Homo sapiens: one gene and its partners. The protein of the gene in region 7 purifies or fractionates together with the protein of the main gene of each other region. This does not show direct contact. Each region holds a gene or a part of one and is shown on either strand. Other genes may lie near its edges.

Evidence for each region.
Region 1: the proteins of MAGEB10 (region 7) and RPF1 purify together in Homo sapiens (affinity purification with mass spectrometry; 2 studies listed by BioGRID and IntAct, with this or other methods). This does not show direct contact.
Region 2: the proteins of MAGEB10 (region 7) and LLPH purify together in Homo sapiens (affinity purification with mass spectrometry; 2 studies listed by BioGRID and IntAct, with this or other methods). This does not show direct contact.
Region 3: the proteins of MAGEB10 (region 7) and RRP1B purify together in Homo sapiens (affinity purification with mass spectrometry; 2 studies listed by BioGRID and IntAct, with this or other methods). This does not show direct contact.
Region 4: the proteins of MAGEB10 (region 7) and RSL24D1 purify together in Homo sapiens (affinity purification with mass spectrometry; 2 studies listed by BioGRID and IntAct, with this or other methods). This does not show direct contact.
Region 5: the proteins of MAGEB10 (region 7) and STAU1 purify together in Homo sapiens (affinity purification with mass spectrometry; 2 studies listed by BioGRID and IntAct, with this or other methods). This does not show direct contact.
Region 6: the proteins of MAGEB10 (region 7) and MRTO4 purify together in Homo sapiens (affinity purification with mass spectrometry; 2 studies listed by BioGRID and IntAct, with this or other methods). This does not show direct contact.

The regions. Positions count from the first base shown.
Region 1 is NC_000001.11:84,489,266-84,492,765, forward strand, and holds part of RPF1 (ribosome production factor 1), read left to right. Parts: intron 1-367; coding exon 368-463; intron 464-1,053; coding exon 1,054-1,207; intron 1,208-3,500.
Region 2 is NC_000012.12:66,124,251-66,127,750, forward strand, and holds part of LLPH (protein LLP homolog), read right to left. Parts: intron 1-3,500. UniProt on the Homo sapiens protein: In hippocampal neurons, regulates dendritic and spine growth and synaptic transmission.
Region 3 is NC_000021.9:43,687,060-43,690,559, reverse strand, and holds part of RRP1B (ribosomal RNA processing protein 1 homolog B), read right to left. Parts: intron 3,045-3,500; coding exon 2,320-3,044; intron 273-2,319; coding exon 120-272; intron 1-119. UniProt on the Homo sapiens protein: Positively regulates DNA damage-induced apoptosis by acting as a transcriptional coactivator of proapoptotic target genes of the transcriptional activator E2F1.
Region 4 is NC_000015.10:55,186,942-55,190,441, forward strand, and holds part of RSL24D1 (probable ribosome biogenesis protein RLP24), read right to left. Parts: intron 1-3,500. UniProt on the Homo sapiens protein: Involved in the biogenesis of the 60S ribosomal subunit. Ensures the docking of GTPBP4/NOG1 to pre-60S particles.
Region 5 is NC_000020.11:49,118,835-49,122,334, reverse strand, and holds part of STAU1 (double-stranded RNA-binding protein Staufen homolog 1), read left to right. Parts: intron 1-2,206; coding exon 2,207-2,353; intron 2,354-3,500. UniProt on the Homo sapiens protein: Binds double-stranded RNA (regardless of the sequence) and tubulin.
Region 6 is NC_000001.11:19,254,805-19,257,716, reverse strand, and holds part of MRTO4 (mRNA turnover protein 4 homolog), read right to left. Parts: coding exon 2,877-2,912; intron 1,770-2,876; coding exon 1,666-1,769; intron 654-1,665; coding exon 572-653; intron 264-571; coding exon 196-263; intron 1-195. UniProt on the Homo sapiens protein: Component of the ribosome assembly machinery. Nuclear paralog of the ribosomal protein P0, it binds pre-60S subunits at an early stage of assembly in the nucleolus, and is replaced by P0 in cytoplasmic pre-60S subunits and mature 80S ribosomes.
Region 7 is NC_000023.11:27,810,990-27,814,489, forward strand, and holds part of MAGEB10 (melanoma-associated antigen B10), read left to right. Parts: intron 1-3,500.

The DNA of each region.
Region 1 (3,500 bases), on a different chromosome or scaffold from region 7:
CTCGTAATTTCATTAGTTTTTTTTGGTTCTTTTTTTGTTTGTTTGTTTTGTTTTTTTTGTGGTTATTGTTTTTACTAACCAAGTTGATGAGGGAAATGAAAGTAGTTCAAGAGTAAACACATCTCAGTTTCTGCCCTGAAGTGATTTCTGACAATTTTATTCAGTTTTGTACTTGTATTTTACACAGGAGAAATCCACTCATCCATTCTCTTCACGTGTCCATTAATGTCAGTCCTTCCTAGTCTGTCTTTAAAGCCCCTATCAGCTAGATACTCAGTGTCCAACAGTCCTGCTGATGCTACTTTTAGAATTCTGGCCCAGTAGAGTATTTCTTTGATGTAAAATTATTCCTCTTCTCTGTTCTCAGGTCGCTTATGATGAAGCTACAGATGAATTTGCTTCTTACTTCAACAAACAGACTTCTCCCAAGATTCTCATCACAACATCAGATAGACCTCATGGGGTAAACACATTGATTAATTTAGTTCTTGAATTCTTAATTTTCTTATTACTTCTATTTAAAGTACTCTGTTCAGAAGAGTTAAACCATTAGTTAATTGCCTTAAAGAATGCCTGTGACTAAGTAAATAAAACGTAGCTCTGGTAATATGATGTAGGTTTACTAAACATGATTCTTCAAGATAGGATTTCTCAACCTCAACATTGTTAACATTTTAGCTGGAGAATTCTTTGTTATGGTGAGCTATCCTGTTCATTACAGGATGTTTAGCAGCTTCCCTGGCCTCTATGCTTTAGGTGCCAGTAGCAACCACACACCACTACCACTACCATCAGTCATAACCATCAAAAATGTCTCCAGACATTGCCAAATGTGTCCTCTGATGGAGCAGAATCGCCCCTAATTGAGAACCACTGCTTTAGGATGATCAGCCTTTGATAAAAGAGGACACACTGTTCGAGTTTCATGCTTTCCTCAATGTTGCTTTCTATTAATCATAATAATTATTATTTCTTTCCTTATGAATATGTACCACATAAGATTTTTATTCTTTTTTGAAAACTATTCAAAATTTTTGTTATTTTGTTTTGCAGAGAACAGTACGACTCTGTGAACAGCTCTCCACAGTTATACCAAACTCACATGTTTATTACAGAAGAGGACTGGCTCTGAAAAAAATTATTCCACAGTGCATCGCAAGAGATTTCACAGACCTGATTGTTATTAATGAAGATCGTAAAACCCCAAGTATCCTTTTTTTTTTTAAGGAGGTTTTCCTGTCCTCTCCCTCACCCCCCTTAAAAATATATTTAAAAGAATAAGGAAATATTGCCTATAACTTTCAGAAAATAATTTTTTTATCAGAAAATTGTATCTCTTTCCAAGAGTCTATAAACTGATTTTTCCTTTGTATTCACCAAACATTTATCAGGCACATGCTACAGCCAAGAGATTGTTGTAACTCTTAGTAAAAGATGCAGAGCTAAAACAAGAGACAACCAGGAAATTCATAGGTGGAGTAAATGGATATGTAAACTGACAAAATATAGTGTGGATGGTACAATTAAATAGAGAAATGCAGGATATAGTGGGGACCCTGTGACTGGTACAAAGTCTGCCCTGGGAGGAAAGACTTCCCATAGAAAGAGATGCTGAAGCTGGATCTAGATGGATGAGGGTGAAGGAGGGGAATAAGGCAGAGAAAAGCGCTCAGTGCAGAGGGACTACCATTTGGAAAGAGAGGAAGGAAAGGGCTGACCTAGTTGGGGATCTGCATATGGTTTGTTGTGGCTAGATTTTACATTGCCAGAGGTGGTATCACAGGATTAAGTTTTTGAGGTAGAGACTTGGGCCCATGTTATGTGTGTGTTCCAGTCTAAAACTTTTTCTGTGAGTCTCAGACCTGAGATGAATGTGTCACCTGAACCCAAGGTATTTCTTCCTGTTGAGATAAGAGATTTGATAAAGGATATCTAGGTTTGTTATTATTGTTGCTGTTTTATTTATTTATTTATTGAATGATGGCTATGAGTTCAGTAACCTTAAAGATGACCAATTGAATGAGTCATCTTTATGATTTTTAATTTCATTAAAATAAAATTATAAAGAATTTACAAAATAGGGACAAGACTTTCTGTGCTGCCAGAATAACATTTTATTTCTAATATCAGTGAACACTCTATTAGTGGTTTAAAAGGCTGTTTTTAAAAAATCTAACTTTTATGACTTTAATTGTTATCAATATAACTTACTTTATCCACTTGTACTAGTAGCTTTCCAGAAACTACTATAACAAGCTTTGTAATGTGTTTTGTTGGCCATATTATAATTTGGCTTAACTGGATTAATGTACCAAAATATCTAAAATCTCTTGAATACTTAACTACTCCAGAAAAAAATTATTTTTAAGGTAGTTGCTGCCTCTTTTTCTTTTTTTAAACTGCCTCCACAAAGTGGCAAGGTCTGTTTTCCTCTTTTTATTTTTGGCAGTTAAAAAACAACTGTCATCACTTTGAGGCCACTAGTAACTCTGCTAAGAAGCAGGCATTCATCAATTCAATAAATGTTCTATCCCTGTTTTATCCAGGGTGTTTTATATAGTCACACAAATTTCACTTATACCATCTATTGCCTTTAAAAAGTTTACATTTTCTGGCCGGATGCGGTGGCTCACACCTGTAGTCCCAGCACTTTGGGAGGCCTAGGCCAGCAGATTGCTTGAGGTCAGGAGTTTGAGACCAGCCTAGCCAACACAGCAAAATCCCATCTCTACTAAAAATACAAAAATTAGTTGGGCGTGTTGGTGCATGCCTGTAATCCCACCTACTTGGGAGGCTGATGCACTAGAATTACTTGAACCCGGGAGGCAAAGGTTGCCATGAGCAGAGATGGTGCCACTGCACTCCAGCCTGGGTGACAGGGCAAGACTCTGTCAAAAAAAAAAAAATGGTGATTATCCTAGAGACTTAGCATGGGTTCAGGAATAAAAATCACAACTCCTAATGGTGACACATGGGGGGAAAGTTGAAAAAACAGGATTTAGCCTGTGGGAAAGTAGATTCTAGGAACATGGCGTCTTTCTAAAGACCATTGGAGGGGCTACTGTGTGGAAGAGTAGTGCTGAATGGTGAAAGTTAAAGGGATATACTTTTTTGACTTATTCTAAAATAGAATTTCATCAGCTGTCTAAACTGTAGAAACCTAGTAGTGGCTTTGAGTCAGGGCAGCTGTGATATCAAATACAGATTCCATTATTTTCTAGTTTTGTGATTTTAGTCACGTTTCTTAGCCACTCAATTTCCTCGTTTTTTAAATGTGGGAAATAATACCTATCTTTAGAGTTCCCACAAAGATCACATTAAATGTATTATGTTTATAAAGCATAGTGTCTGGCACATGGTAGGCATTTTAGTAAACGTGGTATAGTGAGAAGCATGTAAACTTTATCTGTACAGACCTACATCCTCTATTCATTATTTCTAAATGGGGAACTACTGTTATTTGAGGTAGGGTAATTATTTGTGCTACACTCTTGGCAGCT
Region 2 (3,500 bases), on a different chromosome or scaffold from region 7:
GTTCTGAGCACATGTGAGTTACAACAACATTTCTCATATTAAGTGATTCCTTGAGTTCAGTAAGCATACCTACACTTCTAAGGGATACACCTTAGATGTAATGAACTGATTAGGAATGACTGGCCATTTCTTAAGAACTTGAACTAAATTATAATGAACTGAGAACGAACTTCTAATGAACTCGATGGAGTAGTCAGCAGCAGGGTTGTAATGGCAGAGACAGGCACTCAACAGAGAAGACCTGGACACATCCTGGGGCTGGCATACTTTTCCTAGCTAGGTAACACCCAGAGATCCAGCTCTACTGATAGGAGACTTGGCAGGAAGCTCAGTGCAAACATGCTGTGGTACACCTATCACCTTCTCCACTGTGAAGGACATGCTCAGAGTCCCTCACTGGGACCTCCTTATCAGGATACACAAAGTCTTCTATTATCTCGACTACCTGGCATTATATTAGATATTTGCCATTGTTTCCACAGTATCTAGAATAGTGTCTGGTATATAACAGCCACTCAATAACTAGGTGTTGAATGATTATTTTAGGTGCTGTTCTAGTTTATGGGGATATAGTGGTCCATATGAACTCCTAGCCCTCACGGAGTTTACAGTGTTCTGTTGACGGGAGAATAACACAGCAAACAGAAAGAAAACCTCAGCCAGGTATAGTATCTATAGGCATTTGTAGTCTCAGCTATTCGGGAGACTGGGGTGGGAGGATCATTTGAGGCCAGGAGTTCAAGGATGTTGTGGGCTTGGTCACGCCTGTGAACAGCCACTATACTCCAGCCTGGGCAACAAAGTGAGATCCTGTCTCCCCGCAAAAAAAAGAACTGGTAGGCGCTGGTAAGAACATGTTAAGATAATGAGGTTTTTAAGCATGGCAGTGATATAAACTGATTTACCTTCTGAAAAGATCACACTGGTGGATATGTAGAAGATAAATGAGAAGGGAACAAGAGCGGAAGAGAGAAGTAAAAAGGCTCCTATAATAGTACAGGCAAGAGATGACGGCCTTCTGAATCAAGGTGAAAGCAGGAAAAAAATGGATACAGATTTCTAATGTATTTTTGGGACAATCAGTAAGACTTGCTAATGGTTTAGATGTGGGGAATAAAGGAAAGAGGAATCAAGGATGACTACTAGGTTTATGGCTTAAGAAATCAGGCAGGCAGTTGAAAGAGTAGAAATAAGGAAAAACATGAACTTGAGGGTAGAGATGAGAGCCAAATTGATAACAAATAGATTACTAAATGGGGAGACTCCCTCAGTCTCAGTCTCACCACCCTTTAGCTCCTAAAATATCTAAGAATAAGGGCATCCAGAATTCCCCAGGCAGGACATAAGATAATTTCTCTCTGGGGATGATGAGGAAAAAAAAAGACTTAACAGATTCTGATACAGGAGATCTCCGAATAAAACCTCCTGGAGCCATTCCAAATCTTCTATACATCTAGCAGTTGACAGACCCTCTCCCACACCTTGTCTCCCTCCAGCTTCCAATCATCATTGTAGTGCCACACTTTTAAATACAAACAATGACCACTGATCACCAGACATTTGAGAAAAGCTTCTAATATGAAAGAAAGAGACAAAAGTAAAGGAATGGAAGGGCTTGGGAGGGAATTCCAAGAGGAAAGACAGATAATACATACCATAAATAAAAATTTCAAAAGCAAATTGTAATTAATACCCTTAGGAGAAGATATATGCCCATTAAGAACACAGAGTTGATGACTCAAGGGGCATTTACAAAACACAAAGAACACAAAGCTATGAAAAAGGAACAGTAGGCCAGGCGCAGTGGCTCACGCCTGTAATCCCAGCACTTTGGGAGGCCGAGGCGGGTGGATCACGAGGTCAGGAGATCGAGACCATCCTGGCTAACATGGTGAAACCCCGTCTCCACTAAAAATACAAAAAATTAGCCGGGTGTGATCGCAGGCGCCTGTAGTCCCAGCTACTAGGGAGGCTGAGGCAGGAGAATGGCGCGAACCCGGGAGATGGAGCTTGCAGTGAGCCGAGATCATGCCACTGCACTCCAGCCTGGGCGACAGAGTGAGAGTTCATCTCAAAAAAAAAAAGTAAAAAAAAAAAGAAAAACTTTTAGAAATTAAAAATATAAGAGAAAACCAAGTAATAAGAACCAGAATTCAAGGTCAAGGAAATTAGAGGGTATAACAAAATAAATAGAAAACAGGAGAGAAAAGAAAACAGGATCAATCCAAAAGAATCAAGAGTGGATGTGGGCATCTGGTATCTAGAACATATAAAGAACTCTTAACAACCCGATAATAAAAAGACAAACAACGTAATTGAAAAACGAGGCAAAAGACTTGAGTAGACCTTTCTCCAAAAAGATAATACAAATGGTCAATCAGCATATGAAAAAATGTTCAGCCGGGTGTGGTGGCTCACACCTGTAATCCCAGCACTTTGGGAGGCTGAGGCAGGTGGATCACTTGAGGTCAGGAGTTCAAGACCAGCCTGGCCAACATGGTGAAACCCCAACCCTACTAAAAATGCAAAATTCAGCTGGGCATGGTGGCACACGCCTGTATTCCCAGCTACTTGGGAGTCTGAGGCAGGAGAATTGCTTGAACCTGGGAGGCAGAGGTTGTGGTGAGCCGAGATCATGCCACTGCACTCCAGCCTGGGCAACAGTAAGACTCCATCTCAAAAAAAAAAAACAAAAAACAAACAAACAAAAACCAAAAAACACTTCATTCAATGTCATTAGTCATTAGGAAACTTCAAATCAAAATTACAATGAGAATCTATTTCATACCCTCGAAGATGGCTATAATCCGAAAATGGAAAACAAGTATTAGTGAGGATGTGAAGAAACTCAAATACTCAAACACTGCAGGTGGGAATGTAAAATAGTGTGGCTGATGTGGAGAACATTAAAAAGAATTACCATATGACCCAGCAATTCCACTTATCAAACAAAACCTTGTGCACCTGAATGTTCACAGCAGCACTATTCACAACACCCATAAGGGGAAAGAAATCCAAATGCCCAGCAACCGTTGAATGGATATGAAACGTGGTACATGCAATGGACTATTATTTAGCCTTAAAAAGAAAGGAAGTACTGATATATGCTACAATGTGCGTGACCTTCAAAAGCACCATGCTAAGGGAAATAAGCCAGGCACAAAGGTCTCATTATATATGATTCCATTTATAAGAAATATTCAAAACAGGTAAATTCACACATGAAAAGAGCATATTAGTGGTTGCCAGAGGCTGGGGGTAGGAGGAGGAGAGACAGACTTCTTAATGGGTATTAAGTTTCCTTTTAGGGTGAGGAAAGTGTTTTGGAACTAGAGGTGATGGTTGCACAACATGAATGTACTAAATACCACTGAACTGTACACTTTAAAATGGTTAATTTTATGTTATGTGGATTTTGCCTTAACAACAACAAAAAAGAACCAATAGGGAGGGGTGATGTGTGTGTGAGGAAATGAAAACAGCAAGTGAAGGCAAGTGTT
Region 3 (3,500 bases), on a different chromosome or scaffold from region 7:
TGGACAGGCTCAGAGGGCCACAGTGGGGCTCCAGGCCCGGCATGGGAAGCACTGTCAGCTCAAGCCCATCTGTGCCCTTGTGGTGAAATGTGCTGTGCCACTCTGGGGAGGGTGCGTACCTGGACGGCAGGGCCTGGAGGGTGGGTGGCAGTGCTGCTCTTGGCTCTTCTGAAGAACAGGGGCTTTGGTAAGAAGGGGGTGTCAAACTTCACAAAGTCGCTCTCTGCCCTCAGCTTCTGCTTCTTCAGGGAACTGCAAGTCCCACTGCTTCCCTACGTGAGCGAGGGGTGAGAAGCGGAGGAGGGGTCAGACGACAGAGCCTCCTGTGCTGCCCACACACACAGGAGGGGAAGGCAGAGCCCCAGGCAGATCCAGCCCACCCGACGGCCCGCGGTCTTCCGCACCGCACTTGCAGACAGCCCTTCCATTCGGCAGAGCTCAGGCTTCACGCACAACACGACCGCTATCATGGCACCATGCCAAGAGGGGCGATGAAAACGCCTCGTCAGAGTAAGGACCCACTTTTATCTTCATCTTCAAAATGGGGATTTTGGCCTTTCAAAGCCGATCTGTTAATAAGATCGACTCTCCCATTTGTAGCTGAATCGTCACTGCGCTGGCAGTCTGGTGTGGAGGACAGTGATGCCCATGTGGGGCTGTGGGTCCCTCACAGGCAGGCCCAGGACACTCATTGCGTGTGCAGCAACTGACAGCCACCCAGAGAGAGACCGGGTCTCGTACTTGGCTCTCAGAGGTGTGGGCAGCCCAGTGCCGCTGCCGACACACGGGTGGCTCCGGCAGGTTCAAGTGTGCCGCCTGGAGGGCAGGGAAGCCCGAGGAGCTTCTCCTGTGCGCCTTCCCTGTGCCATGACAGATGGCAGGGGAAAGCTTCCCTTGACCCTGGGACTTATTGAGCAACACCCCATCCTCTTTACAATAGGCTGCCAGGGGCCTGAGACGACAGCAAGAAAGGCAATGTCTCTGGCCCTCTTAGTGAGGGAGCAGCGCTGAGGGTACGAGGGGCAGGCTGCAGTCCAGGGAGGAGATGGCGGCACTGTGAGGTAGGAGAGACTCGAGGCTAGAAATGGGCCTCCTGCCGTCCAGCTCAGTGCACTGCTGCCCCTGGGTAAGGCTTTCCTGACCATAAACTCACTCACTAGCCACTTGCAGACACTCTTAGCCCCAAACCAGCGCTTCACCAGGTCCACACATGTCCACTTAAACAAGAGATGTCATAATCTCCGCAAAGCGGTGTGTGCAAACCAAGAGGTGACCAAGGTGCGCAAACTCTGTGAAGGGCAGAGTTATTTTCTGCTTTACAGACCGCAGGTCTCTGTCTCTACCACTCCCCTCTGCCGCTGCAGCATGAAAGTGGCCACAGACCTGCACATACAAGTGGATGTGGCTCTGTTGCAGTGACACTACGTTTGCCGGCCCTGGCCTGGAAGCCCAGGGCGCCCAGAGGTGGTGTGAAAAGCGGATCAGGGCCAGGCGCGGGGGCTCTCGCCTGTAATCCCGCACTTTGGGAGGCCGAGGCAGGTGGACTGCTTGAGCCCAGCCTGGGCAACAAGGCAAAACTCTGTCTCTACAAAAATAACAAAAATTAGCTGGGCATGGTGATGTGTATCTGTAATTCCAGCTACTTGGGAGGCAGAGGCAGAAGAATCGCTTGAACCTGGGAGGTGGAGGTTGCAGTGAGCCGAGATTGTGCCACCGCACTCCAGCCTGGGTGACACAGCCAGACCCAAGACCAGATCAACAGCTTGGTTCCTCATTTATATCTGGCTCTAGAAATCAAAGTGGAAGGAAAGTCTTTCCATTAAGAAGATAAGTGGTCCTGCTAGTGAAGTTTCTTGAGCTGGGGGGTAGGGGGGAAGCTAAGAAAAGAAAAGAATATAGAAAAGAAGGTGAGTGAAGCAAGAGAATTTTGGGCTTCCTCTTTTGCCAAAGGGGCCTGGACTGGCCATGCGCTGATGAAGAAAACCAGACCTGCCTTTGACAGAGGCCTAGACTGGCCTGAACACGCCTGGGGCAGGAGTGCCTGGCCCAAGGGATAACTTTCCCAGCTTGGAGTGGGCCCTCCCGAACCCAAGCATGTGGCCTAAGGGAGTGAAGGTGGCCGATGAGGAGGACCGAAGTACTGGTCACCTGTGATTTCCTCCTTAGTGAAGGCTGTTATGAACACACCCTATTCTAACTGCTGCTGAGTCCAGAGGCCTGGCCGCCAGCCCCCACCCTTCCTCTCAGGAGGCAGTGGAGCCCCATGGACGCGAGTGAGTGCCTCTGTGGCGAGCTGGCCTGTGGGTGCTCCCACCTTACCAGAGCCTGGGGTTGCCCAGCTTCGGACTCCAGCACCCCGTTGTGCTCCACCAAGTTTGACATCACTCTCATTTTCTTCCTCTTTTTCAAACTTGCTGTTTTCTGGCTGGGCAGGCCACAGAGCTCCAGGCTGCCGGGCCCTGCCTTCTTTTTCTGCAGCCTCCTGCGCTGGGGCAGCGTGGTGTGGCTGTTCGCCCCCTCTGCGGGGCCTGTGGGAGGGCCTTCCTGCTGCAATGGAGGCCAGGCCGGCGTGGACAGGCCACTGCCATTGACGGGCACAACTCCAAGTTTCCGCTTCCTTTTTAGGAGTTGGGCTCCACCTGTCGGGGACCCTCTAGGTCCCTGAGGATGACTGCCACTCGGGCCACTCTGAGACATGTCCTCTGGGGGCAACACTGCTGATTCCAACATTTCCCTGTGGGCCCTCGGGCTCTTCTTCCGTGGCCGTTTCCTTTTATTGTGCATGGGGACGGCTGGAGGATGCTCGGAGCCACTCTCCTCCCCAGTGCTGGACGTGGCCTCTGCACCTGGCTCGGCCACACGTGCCTTCAGGGCTTTCAGCCCAGAGGCCTCGGGCTCCCTGCCCCGGTTCTGTTCCAGGGATGGGGCTGCACCCCCTGGGCCTGGATTTTCAGGCTGCAGGTGGTGCTTCTTCTTCTTCTTCCTTCTTCTCTTTTGAAGACTGCTTTCACTGTCCTCTTCCTCTACACAAAAGACTCTGCTTCCTAAAAAGACAGAAACCCATCAACAAGCACCCAGTGCCAGCTGGGCCAGAGTCCTGCTGGCGATTCTCAGACAGTATGACTGGCGGACGCAATTTCCTGACATTCTACCACGAGGAAAGTTCCTGTCTCCCTTGAGGTACTTGGTGCGCCCACTACCTTTGTCGTCTGGTCCCACTTCCTCCATCCCCAACTGTGACTGGAAGCCTTCCTTCTGTCCGTTTATAAACACATATGGAACTGAAATAGTCCCATTTCCACTAATTTTAGGGCTCAAGGGTAAAAACCATAGATCTCGAGTGGTCATCAAACAGCCGCCCCCCAGTGCTCCCTGCAGCTCCTGCTTCCCTGCAGAGGTGCCCTGGAGAGCAGGCGGACGTGAGCGGGGTGAGGTGGGGACGCGGCTCCACCAAAAACAGCACAACACTTGGAAAACCGCCTTTACCTCTCAGCCATTAA
Region 4 (3,500 bases), on a different chromosome or scaffold from region 7:
ATGTTAACATTCAGGGAGTCTGGATGAAGGATATCAGAGAACTCTACTCGTGCAACTTTTCTGTAATCTGAAATTAGGTCAAAATAAAAACTTTTAAAATGTAGCCTGGGACCAGTAACAGTGGCATCATTTGGGAGCTTGTTAGAAATGAAGGATTTCAGGCCCCACACAAACCTACTATATCTGAATCTACATTTTAACAAAAACCACCAGGACAATCTTTGAGACCTCTAGTATTAAAGCAATGTTTGTATAAATAACTCTAAGAAAATGTCAACTATAAATCTGCATATGCTGTAGCTCAGAATTAATAATATGCTGGATATATAACTTTTTTTCTTTGTCTTTCAGCAAAAATAAGTACAAGTTCTAGTACTCAAAAGCATTTCCACACTTTAAACTTATTTAGAAGGGAAATAAACACAAGTGGCAGGAAAATCCCTTCCAAAGAATAATATGCTGTATTTCCAAATATTCCAGAATACTGAAATATTTTGAACCTAAGAAGCATCTAACTGTACAATTCACAACTGCAAAGATATGGAACCAACCTAAGTGCCCATCGACCAACAAGTGGGTAAAGAAAATGTGGTATTTATACATGATGGAATAGTTCTCACCCAAAAAAAGGAATGAAATAATGTCTTTTACAGCAACTTGGATGGAACTGGAGGCCACTATTCTAAATGAAGTAACCCAGGAATAGAAAAGCTAACACTGTATGTTCTCACTTGTAAGCAGGGGCTAAGCTATGGGCACGCAAAGGCATACAGAGTGGTATAATGGACTATGGGACTCAGAAGGGGGAGTGGGGTGGGGTAAGGGGTAAAAACTATAGATTGGGTACAATGTACACTACTCAGGTGATGGATGCACTAAAATCTCAGATTCTGACAATCTACAATTAATCCATGTAACCAAAAAAACCACTTGTACCCCAAAAGCTATTAAGATTAAAAAAAAGTTCAACAAAAATATGTAAAAAGTTAAAATAAAAAATAAAAAAAAATCTGACAGATATTAACAATTCACCTGCAACACAGACAGCCATGAGGGACAAAGTGCAAACTATTTTTCCCGGTATTTTTGAAATTCTAACATACTACTGTTTCTACAGACATCAGTACCTTAACAAAGGTTGTTTAATCCATATCCTCACACAATTTGATAATGTAAGCAATGAATATACAACTCTTGTCAATAGATTAGTTTATAGACCAAATGATACTGAAATACGAGGGGTGTGGAGAATCAATGAATCTCTTAGAAGAATAATATATTGTTCTGGAACACTACTGAAAACAACTTTTCTTAATTGTATAAAATATCATGAAACAATCTTAAATTCCAAAGACTCTCATACTATTTACCTAGCACTCATACTGTACACTTAGCAGATCTTCTCAGAAAAATCTATTTTTAGGATCCCAGTAAAAAGGAAAGCAGAATCAGTGCAGGAAAAAAGAAATCAATAGAGCACTGCTTCTTACAGAATTTACAGATGTATAAATGTGGGGGGCAAGAGAATGAGACTCTGTAATAAAACCTAACAGAAACAATAAAATAGGAGTACTCAGTAAGTGCACCTAGAGGGCAGAGACCGTGTGTGACGTGTTCATCTTTGTATGCCACAGGCAGTGCTTAATAAATGTGCACTGAATTAAAATAAATTAAGAACTGTAGAGAACACTACCATTACAGTATGTGAAGTCATACAGAACACAGCAGTATTTCTCTCGAGCAATGTAAATAACATGACACCAGCATGGAGGACCATGGAACTGATTATTCACATATCGCTAAAATTGTATATGCAACTCTTTTCAACAACAACCTAAATACCCGCTAAGTAAAAGTAGTTACAAAATATGTAAAAATGATCTGGAGCTGCTGTCTTCAAGTAATAATAACAACAACAAAGGTCAAAATGAAATAAAACTGAATGAAGTCCAGAAATGCCTCAGGACTGGCCAAGTGCGGAGGCTCACGCCTGTAATCCCAGCACTTTGGGAGGCCAAGGCAGGCAGATTGCCTGAGCTCAGAAGTTCACCACCAGCCTGGGCAACATGGTGAAACCCCGTCTCTACTAAAATACAAAAAAATTAGCCGGGCGTGGCGGCGTGTGCCTGTAGTCCCAGCTACTCGGGAGGCTGAGGCAGGAAAATTGCTTGAACCCGGGAGGCGGAGATTGCAGTGAGCCGAGATCCCACCACTACACTCCAGCCCGGGTGACAGAGCAAGACTCCCATCTCAAAAAAAAAAAAAAAAAAAAGAAATGCTTCAGGACTTTCCAATAATGTCCTTGATAAGAGTGCCTTTTGAAATCAATTTAAGAATCCTATAGTTAATCTCTTTAGAAATCCTTGAGTTTGAATAAGTGTTATTTCCTTACCAAATAAACCCAATAAAAATCAACTGCTTTTCAGAAATTAACTCCTCCTCTAATTATAAAGCAGAAGGAAAAGACCTTATTTTTTAAAAAGGGGTTGGGGGAGACCCAAAGGGTACAATAATTAGGGCTAAGTACAGAAAAGGCAATTCCAAATCTAAACTCCAGTTTCTCCACATGGTCCTAGGTAAACAAAGCTTTAGAACAAGCTTGACCAACCCACGGCCCAATATAAATTCGTAAACTTTCTTAAAACATAAAGAGATTTTTTTTGCAATTTTTTTTTCCCTTAGCTCATCAGCTATCATTAGTGTTAGTGTATTTTCTGTGTGCCCCAAGACAATTCTTCTTCCAATGTGGCCCAGGGAAGCCAAAGATTGGATGCCCCTGGTTCAGAAGGTATAAATACTACCACAAAGGTCCACAAATTTTCAGTTCTTCCCCTGAAGTCTCGTGACTGACTGGAGGACACAAAGGGATGCCCTGCCTATGATCCATTAGCAGAGTAATAAAGTTTGTGGAATTCTAAGCCTTACAGACTCTGGTTAACAAACCACATCACCCCCACACCCAATACTAGAAATAGCTACAGGCTGCATAAAGGTAGCCATGGGAAGAAAAGAAGGCCGGGCCGGTGCCAGGCATGGTGGCTCACGCCTGTAATCCCAGCACTTTGGGAGGCCAAGGTGGGAGGATCACTTGAGGTCAGGAGTTCAAGGCCACCCTGGCCAACATGGCAAAACCCCATCTCTACTAAAAATACAAAAATTAGCCAGGTGTAGTGGCATGTGCCTGTAATCCCAGCTACCTGGGAGGCTGAGGCAGGAGAATTGCTTGAACCTGGGAGGCAGTGATTGCAGTGAGCCGAGATCGTGCCACTGCACTCCAGCCGGTGGGACAGAGCAAGACTTTCCAACTCAAAAAAAAAAAAAAAAAAAAAAAAGGCAAGGCCAAGGGTCCCAAACATACACAAATGTGGTAGAATCTACAAGCTAGCTCAAGGGATTAACTTTTTCTACATATGAGACTTTTTTCATTAAACTTTCTGCCTATTTCAGGGAAAAAAAACAAAACAAAACAAAACAAAAAAAACAAGAACTAGATATTATTG
Region 5 (3,500 bases), on a different chromosome or scaffold from region 7:
ATCAAGAGATCTGTTCCTCTTCCTCCTAATTCTTATGGAGTCTGGAATCTAGGGTTACCTCTTCCTTAGATTGGGTGACACTTCAGATTAGTATGGAACATTTCTTTGTACTTAGCTGATTAAGTTCAAAGCTAAGTGGTCATTTCACATAGGCAGCTTAACTTAATTGTGATTTGAATTTAAGTGCTTTCTGATGTAAGACAGAATCCTTATCTCTTGTATAGCAATTTATAACTTAGAAAGTTGACCTCGTATATTTTACCTATGCAGTCAGAAGGTAGGAAAAGAATGATCCTTTCATTCCACAAAAGGAAGTTGCAGTTTGCTGAGAGGATCAGTAGTTTGCCCAAGATGAAATGGCTGGTAGATGGCCAGGTTGGAATTTAGTCCCAGGCCAGGGAATGGTTTCTTTGACTCTCTGAGTCTTGTGACCTGGGCTTTTGGTTTTAGCAGCCAGGTGCCTGTTATTACAATCAACTTGGAAGGGGGTTGTAAGTAGTGATGTGCTGGAACATGTTTAACAACCAGCTCTTCTTCGGGGAGGGTGGTTTGGTGGAATGAGCTGAATATGTATGTTATAGATATATACATGGGTGTTATATACATGTGTGTTATAAATTTTACTGACACAAAGGATGTGTGTTATAAATTATACTGACATATATGTGTGTTTTATAAATTTTACTGACAGAAAGGATGTGTAGTACAATTTATAAATAATATACACTTTATTGTAAATTTCATACATATTTCAGTGTGACAGTTACCAACGATAGTGTTATAAAATCAGACAGCACATAATGGTTTATTACTATCCAGTTCAGCAAAGGTGTTGCTCATGTCACTGACAAATACATACTGTAGATTTGAGATTTTGGTTGTAGCATGAATACTGGTTGAGATACATTTTTTTTGGGGTAGAGGGGAATGGAGTCAACTTGCTCTGTTGTCCAGGCTGCAGGGCAGTGGTGTGATCTCGGCTCACTGCAACCTCTGCCTCCCAGGTTCAAGTGATTCTCCTGCCTCAGCCTCCCGAGTAGCTGGGATTCACGGGTGCCCACCATCACGCCCAGCTACTTTTTGTATTTTTAGTAGAGATGGGGTTTCACCATGTTGGCCAGACTGGTCTCGAACTCCTGACCTCAGGTGATCCACCCACCTCAGCCTCCCAAAGTGCTGGGATTACAGGCGTGAGCCACCACGCCCGGCTGGTTGATGTTTTTTATTTATGTTAATAGGTAAGATGAAAGTAAAACAGGCTGGGCTTGATGGCTTACGCCTGTAATCCCAGCATGACGGATCACTTGAGGTCAGGGGTTCGAGACCAGCCTGACCAACATGGTGAACCCTCATTTCTGCTAAAAATAGAAAAGTTAGCCAGGCATGGTGGCACACGCCTGTAATCCCAGCTACTCGGGTGGCTGAGGCAGGAGAATCGCTTGAACCTGGGAAGTGGAGGTTGCAGTGAGCTGAGATCATGCCATTGCACTCCATCCTGGGTGAAGAAGTGAGACCCTGTCTATCCCAAAAAAGAAAAAAGAAAAAGTGAAACAATGAAGACATGTAACATCACTCATTTGTAAATGATATGAGTGGCTTCTCTGCAAAATTAGATAATTTTCAAAGACGGGAAGATATTTCAGTTTTTTGTGCTAGTTACAATGTAATGGCTGCAGACTTCTCATGCTTTTAAGATTAACCTGCTTTATTAACCTTTTCATCATTGTAGGTTTAGAGTTAGACAATAAACAGCTTATGATCTTTGATACGTAGCATTTGTATATTTCTGTGGTATAAATAGTCCCACCATGGCTGATTTCAAGCTCTCAAAGTGATACTTCCAATGGCAATGCTGGGAATAGATGTACAGTAGTTCACCATCACAGACTGTTTCCATTGTACAAATGCAATAGCTGGGCAGACCCTCAGAACACAGATGATTATAAAATGCAGTCAAAAATTACCTCTGTTAAAATAATTATCAGCTTATATAATTAAATGTTTAATACTGGCTGTGTTTAACAGCCAGCTTCCCAAACTCCTGACTATTTAATAATTAGCTCTCAGAGACAAGGAGGCCAGGTTCGGGGCACTGCTGTTATCTTGCTTCTGACCATAGTTGGTTATTTTGCTGACACACCAATTCCTGCCTGGTTGTTATTCTGAAGGTTTAAGCACTGGTCTGTGTTTTGACTTCTTTGTGCAGGTGAAGGTTGGAAACCACACTGCAGAAGGAACGGGCACCAACAAGAAGGTGGCCAAGCGCAATGCAGCCGAGAACATGCTGGAGATCCTTGGTTTCAAAGTCCCGCAGGCGCAGCCCACCAAACCCGCACTCAAGTCAGAGGAGAAGGTGAGTGCTGTGGGCTCTCTGATTGCAAGATGGTCTCTCGCCTCACCCTAGGGAACTGGGGCACCTCCAGGGGCAGGCTTCAAGGCAAGGCTTTATCTGCCTGACAGTTCAAGGAGTCCTGCTGAGGAGTGTCTCATCCATTTGGACCATAATGTGCTCAGAGGGGCCTCGCATGTCCACTGGCCCCAGGAGGCTCTGGGTTAGATCGTTGATTGTGTCAGTATCTTTGTGGTCTGGGGACGCTTTGTGGAGGGCAGCTTGCTCCTCTCTATTTGTAGGATGAGGATGAAGGGTAATTAGGACTGAAATTACTAAGTGTGATTTGCACTCTAGAAATGAAGCCTGTGTGAAAGATTTATAACTGTTAGGCTTTCGTTAATTGTGGAATAGGCTTTGATTTTTCTGGCAAAATAAGACAGTGTGACAGTAGAGACAGGCCAAATCCAAAGTTTAGGTTTGGGATTTCTTTTTTCCTATGTGAGTTAAACATCAGATGAAAATAATCCCCTGTTGAAAAATTCACGGCCAGGTGTGGTGGCTCAAACTTGTAATTTGGGAGGCTGAGGCCTTGAATCCAGGAGTTCAAGACCAGTCTGAGCAACATGATGAAACCCTGTCTCTACAAAAAATTAAAATATCAGCCAGGTATGGTGGCTTGTACCTGTAGCCCGAGCTACAAGGCTGAGATGGGAGGATTGAGCCTTGGAAGGTCAAGGCTGCAGTGAGCTGTGATCATGCCACTGCACTCAGCCTGGGCGACAGACCCTGTCTCAACAACAACAAAAAAGGAACGTAAAAAGAAAAATTCGTGTCTGCCAGAAGTGGTAAGCAGGACCTCAGCAAAAGCCATGGCTGACCTTCTTCTTTCCCATCACTGAATGGTCCTGGTGAGATAAACTTGAAATCAGGCCTGATTCATTCATGTCTGCCAGTCATATTGACAGAAACAGCATCAGTCATGGCCAGTTAATAACTGACTGGGACCCCAGATACCACCAGTATAGATCTTAGACTTGGCTTTAGGGTTTTTCATTTCAGAATCTTGTAGGACATTCAGAGTGTCCTTTGTTACTTCTTAGAAAGGTGATGTTGTGTTAGACAAAATTCTTAGGTAATAACATTTTCCCCGTAAGGGTGTTAATTTTGG
Region 6 (2,912 bases), on a different chromosome or scaffold from region 7:
GCTGGCCAGCAGCCAGCCCAGAGCACCATGCTGGAGAGGACAGAGAGGGCTGTGGTCCCAGGCCACTAGCTCAGTGACAGGCTTCCAGGAGCAGTTCCAACTTGATGCCACATATGGAACGAAGTTCCTGCATCATTCCCTCCCTGAAATCCCCTCTCACCCGCCTCTTTCCCTCCGTTCCTCAGCAGTACTTACTCATTCACCTCCTCCTTTGTGCGGTTGGTGAACAGGAGACCCACCTCACCCCTCAACCTTTTGCTGACCTACAAATCAGGAGTGAGGACAGCTTGGTCACATTAGAGCAGTGGTTCTCTACTAGGCACGTTTTTGCTCACCGGGTACATTTGGCAACATTTAAAGACGTTTTTGGTTGTCATAGCAGGAAGGAGTGGGAGGCAGGAAGCTGCTATTCCTTGGGTCCGGAGGTGAAGGGAGAACCCAGAGCTTTAAGCCAGGCCCTGCTCTCCCTGAGCCTCCGGCCTGCCAATGGCTGGGGGAGGCTGTCACATGGGAGTAGTGGGAGAGAGGGCGGCTTTGCCTTAGCTCCACCCCGTGAGGGCCAGAGACTTACCTGGTGCAGGTTGTCTTTGTATTCATCAGATGGGCTCCGACCCAAGGCCACCATCATCACCTTGTTTTTGCCAAAGAACATCCTACCAAGCAAGAGAAAGAGCATTCTGTGAAGGAAGAGCCCTGCCCTCCCCATCCCTCAGCAACATGCAAAGTAGCTCCGGTCCCCAGTGAGCTCAGGCCCAGGCTGAGCCAGTGGCACCCACTTCTCCATGCTGCCTGGCCACACTGTCCCCACGTTGGGGTCCCTTTCATTATGTTCCCACCCACAGACTCCTGACATGGCAACATTTTGTCTCCCAGCCCATCACGAGCATCATGTACCAGTTCTCTATCTGGATGTATGCGGGAGGCATGTTAACAGCCTGAACCAGAGCTGGTGCGGCAAGAGACCACCACCAGAGCCACCTGCCCCAGGACAGAAACTTGCCATGTGGCTCCTGCATCCTGCTCCCAGGTCACTGTCTGTGTCGCAGTGTCCCTACTGACATTCTAAAACTGGTGTGATGCTCCTAAATGGCCCACAGTCCAGGGTTAAAGGGCCACTTCTCCGGAAAGGCCCACCTCTCAAACATCTCCTGAGCAACTGCCAAGTCCTGCCCCTAGGAGCTCAGTGCAAAATCTGCTTTTTGAGGTGGAGTTTCACTCTGTCACCCAGGCTGGAGTGCGATGGTGCAATCTCAGCTCATTGCAGCCTCTGCCTCATGGGTTCAAGTGATTCTTCTGCTTCAGCCTCCTGAGTAGCTGGGATTATAGGTGCCTGCCACCATGCCCGGCTAATTTTTGTATTTTCAGTAGAGAAGGGGTTTCGCCATGTTGGCCAGGCTGGTCTCAAACTCCTGACTTCAGGTGATCCCCCTGCCTCAGCCTCCCAAAGTGCCAGGATTACAGGCGTGAACCACCGCACCCTGCCCAAGACCAGCTTTAACAGTGAAAAGGAAGTGCTCTTCAGTGGCAGGTAGCACTTTGTCCTTATTAAGGTGTCAGCGGCATGACCCAGGCACCTAAAGGGTCAGAAATTGCTCCTGTGCTTTGACTGAGAGCAGCCTGGCCGGGTCCCCACTCAGAAGGGCCTTCCTCCCCCTGCCCGCTCACCGGCTGTGCTTCCAGGCGTTCCGGATGTCCTTCAGCTTGCTGTTCCTCATGTTGGCCACAGAGAAGATGAAAAGGTACTTGTAGGTGTCCACACATTTCCGAAGCTGTGGGACAATTCACGAGGCTCTGAGTTCAAGCAGCAGCATACAACGGGCACTACTCTGGCCTCAGATGAGAATGAATCTGCTCTGGGCCCCTGACAACTATGGAAACTGGAAGAACTGGAGGCCTCTAATTTGGTTGTCTCCTACCTCCATTACTGAAATTAGGATCCCTAACCACAGGGGAGGCTGAGCCATGGATCTACACCCCACGGCCTTTTCCAGGTCTCTCACTTATTTATGACCAACAGTGGAACTGATCATCAGCTGTTAACCTAGAAACATTCACCCACATTAGGAAGGGTCCTGCTACATGGAAACACATGGAGCCTCTCTGTTATAAGGGGAGGCAGCTGATCGGTACTGCTCTGCACGTGGTGCTGGCCAAAGCCACCATGAGGCAGCCTCTAGGAGTGGAGTCATTGTGCAGGAGGAGACTGTTTCACCCAGCCTGCAGCCCAGGTTGGCAGGTCAGAAGCTGTACAGACAGTGGGTTGGTGCAGTCACCTACACCTGGTAAATCTCCCAGCTCTTTTTTTTTTTTTTTAAAGACAGGGTCTCACTCTGTTGCCCAGGCTGCGTACCACCACGTCCAGCTAGTTTTTTTTTCTTTTCTTTTTGTAGAGATGAGGTTTTGTCATGTTGCCCAGGCTGCTCTTGAGCTCCCAGACTCAAGCTGTCTGACCCACTTGGCCTCCCAAAGTGCTGGGATTACAGGCGTGGCCCACCATTCCTGGCCTCCTGTTTTTTGACATTAGGCAGGCTAACAAATCTCTGTAAGCTTCAGTGACCCCAAATGCAAAACAGCAACATCATCACCTAGTACCCACATCACAGGGATGTTATGAGGATGGAGTGGAACAACGCATAAGAAACACAGTGCAGGACAGGGCACAGAGTACGAGCTAGTCAAAGCTGGAAATCATCACTATGGAAGTTTTTGCTGGTGCTGCTGCTGGAGGAAAAAGGCCTGGATTGGCAGCTTGGAGATTTTTTTTTTTTCCCCACTAGTATGTTCCCCTGGCCAACAGTCCTATCCCTGGCCAACAGTCCTATACCTACCTTTATAAACCAAACAATTGCAAGCTCTAGAAAAGAACAACCTCTTACCTCTTCTATCAGGTTTTGTTTCAATTCCAAGCCTTT
Region 7 (3,500 bases):
CCTCCCTCCAACTGCATACTCTGGGATATCAAGTGGAAGAGGGCCTTTCTCTGATTGGTATAGGCCTCAAGTCCTCAGAGGGGAAGGTATGAGGCTGTCAAGGTGAGGAGTCATTAGGAGGAACCTGAATTTCCAGAAGTAAAAGAGGATTCATAGAGCCCTAAGAGTGCTGTCTTTCCTGATAGGGGTCCCTGGGGAAGATACATCTGAGGCCTCCCTAATATCTTTATCAGGAATGTCAGGGATGTGAAGGCCTTGCTTGGAGGGGATAGGTTTCAGGTAAGCAAAAGGAGGGCAATCAGACCCTCCAAGAAGCAAAAGTAAAGACTGAGGACTGAAAACTAATTACCTCAAGATAAAGAGGGTCTCACCGATCTCTGCATTGCTGCCATTCCACAATGTCCCCCTGCAAATGTGGTCACATGAGATTCCCCCTCAATTTCTTGTCTGGGGAGTCAAGGATATGAGCGCTTTGGAATGAGGGAGTCAGCATCAAAACAGTTCAGCAGTGAGATAACAGGTCCTGCCAGAAGTCAAGGTGATGGCCCTGAATGTGAATTGAAAGAAACATCGTCTACCCCAGAAAAAAAGGAAGCTCCATAGAGTCTGGACCTGCCAGTCACTGTATCAGTCCCAGTAAGATGCAGGTAATACTGGCAGGCTTCAGCAAAGGTACAGTCTAGTTACTTCCACTGATTCCTCAGGGGAAAGGCCCTTCAGAGAAGAGTAGCCTCATAGGATCCTTGAACAGTGTTCTCAAAGAAACCTACAGAAGCAACTTCCATAAAGTCAAGGTGATATCTTCCTGCTGGAGGATCACACCTTCTTTCCTTGAGGTCACTTCATCACCTGCCATCTGTCTCACACTACTACTTACCTCTGAGCAGAGTCATAATGCCTCGGGGTCAGAAAAGTAAGCCCCGTGCCCGTGAGAAACGCCGCCAGGCTCGAGAAGAGCCCAAGGACGTGGAAGGTGCTCAAGTCACTGTAGCAGAGGAAGGAGAGTCCCTCACTTCATCTCCTCATTTCAAAGATAGTCCTGAGAGGTCATCTGCTGTCGAAACACCCAGCAATGAGCAAGAGCCTGGGATAGCTCTAGCCATCACCACTGCTGCAGCTGTTTCATGCACAGCATCTAATGAAGGCATCGACAGCCAAGTTGAGGAAAGGTCAAATGCCTCACAGGCCCAGGCTACCACTGGGCAGTGGCCCAGAGGCCCTATAGATAAGAAGATTGCTATGTTGGTGCATTACCTGCTGTACAAATGTCAAATGCAAGAGCCCATTACAAAGGCAGATATGCTGAAAAATGTAATCCAGACGTAAAAGAGCCTCTTCCCTGAGATCCTGAGGAGAGCTTCTGATCACCTGGAGTTGGTCTTTGGCCTTGACGTGAGAGAAGTGGATCCCAACAAGAGCATCTATGTCCTTGTCAACAAACTAGAATTAGGCCATGACACAAGAGTGAATCCTAACAGAAGTTTGCCCAAGAATGGCCTGCTGATGACCATCCTGAGTGCGATCTTCAGCCAGGGGAATTGTGCCCCTGAGGAGGAAGTCTGGAAGGTGCTAAATATGATGGGGGTATACGAGGGACAGGAGCACGTCATCTATGGAGAGCCCAGGAACCTCCTCACCAAAGATTTAGTGCAAGAGCAGTACCTGGAGTATTGGGAAGTGCCCAACAGCAGTCCTCCAAGCTATGAATTCCTGTGGCGTCCACGAGCCTATGCTGAAACCAGCAAGATGAAAGTCCTAGAGTTTTTGGCCAAGATCCATGGTACAGTCCCCAGTGCCTTCCCATCCCATTATGAAGAGGCTTTGAAAGATGTGGAAGAGAGATCCCAAGCCAGAATTGCAGCCAGGGCCCGTACTGCCACCATGGCCAGTGCACGTTCCAAGGCCACGTCCAGCAGCCTTGCCTGCTCCAAGTGAAGGCTGAGGAAAATGCTTTACTGTGTTTTTGAAGAGGACAGTCAGTGTTTCACTAGTGGAGGGTTGGCTGTGTCTCGTTATAACATAGTACATAACATGTTCTGGGTAACTTGGATATTTAAACGTTGTTCCTTTTAATAGAAGGTTAAAGTAGCTTAAGAATCCAAGATTATAAGTGATAGTAAGTCATACATTTATTGATGTTTGTGAGGTTTTAGAGTAGAGTTTTACTATTTTATAGAAAAAAATGGGAAAATTTCCATCTTATTTAGTGATCTCCAATGAGATAACATAGTAGTGGATTAGCCATTTCCTTGGAAATATTTTTTTAAAAAAGCAGTAAAATAGTTGGGATGAAGAAATAGAGGTAAAATGTAAAAGATGATAAATGCTTTCATTCCGTTATGTTTAGTCTGTTCTGTAAAATTAAGAGATAGATACTTAGATATGATTAGTTTATTCAACAATGTAGGAGAAGGAACATCATAATAAAACTGACTTCTTGCACACTGGCTCACTTATTTCTCAAACATTACTTGGGCATCTGTTCTTTGGAGGGAAGGCGCCATGCTGGTACTGGGAATGTCAGGATAAACAAGACCCAAGGGCACGCACTGAATTGTAGAGTCTAAGAGCAGCTGTCATGTAAGGAAGATGGTGAGATATACCCTAAGAAGTAAAGGATGAGTAAGAGAAGGTGGGAAGATCCAGATCAGAGCAGTCAAGTGAAAATGTCCTGAGGCAAGTGGGTTTGGGGCCTTAGGAAACTGCAAACCCTTCAGTGTCAGTCAATTTTGTTAGTCTGGATAGTGGGTTGGTTGAGGCTGTGGGAGTACAGAGCAGGGGCCAGATCCTCAAAAAGACTAATGCCTAGAATGAAGAAGTGCTTTTAGCAGTTATTTTGAGGTAATAGATAAACCAGAAATAATTGTAAGATGGGAATGGAAGGTGTCTTGCATCCTTTTCCAGTGTCATTTTTCCAGTGCAGTTGGGCACAGTCCACAAACTATGTTTTATGCACATCAGCTCCAGGGACCTTCTGAGAATCAAGGGTGACCTGACATGAATGTGCTCAAAAGCCATTGTGCTGGCATTATTTGCTCTGGCCTGGGAGAAACAAGAGCCCACTAAACCCACTTAATTAAAAGGGCTTTTAAAAAAACTTGTACTTTAAGTTCCTGGATACATGTGCAGAATGTGCAGGTTTGTTATATAGGTATGCATGGGCCATGGTGGTTTGCTGCACCTATTGACCCATCATCTAGGCTCCCTCCCCCTGCCCCTCACACCCCAACAGGACCCGGTGTGTGTTGTTCCTAAAAGGGCATTTTTATTAGGTTGTCTTTAGTATCATTTGGCAAACTCAAGTGAGGGCTAGATTTTTGATGCGAGTGAAAGAAATGAAAATAGGGGTGGTTTGGATGGAAGGATAGTTGAAGGGATGGAAGGAATTAGTCTTTGACATAAATTATAGGAGTCTTGAATCCAACTGGGGAAGACTACCCCACACCCGCAATAAATAAGAAATCCTCAAATTTGCAAAGTAAATAACTGAGTTTTACTTG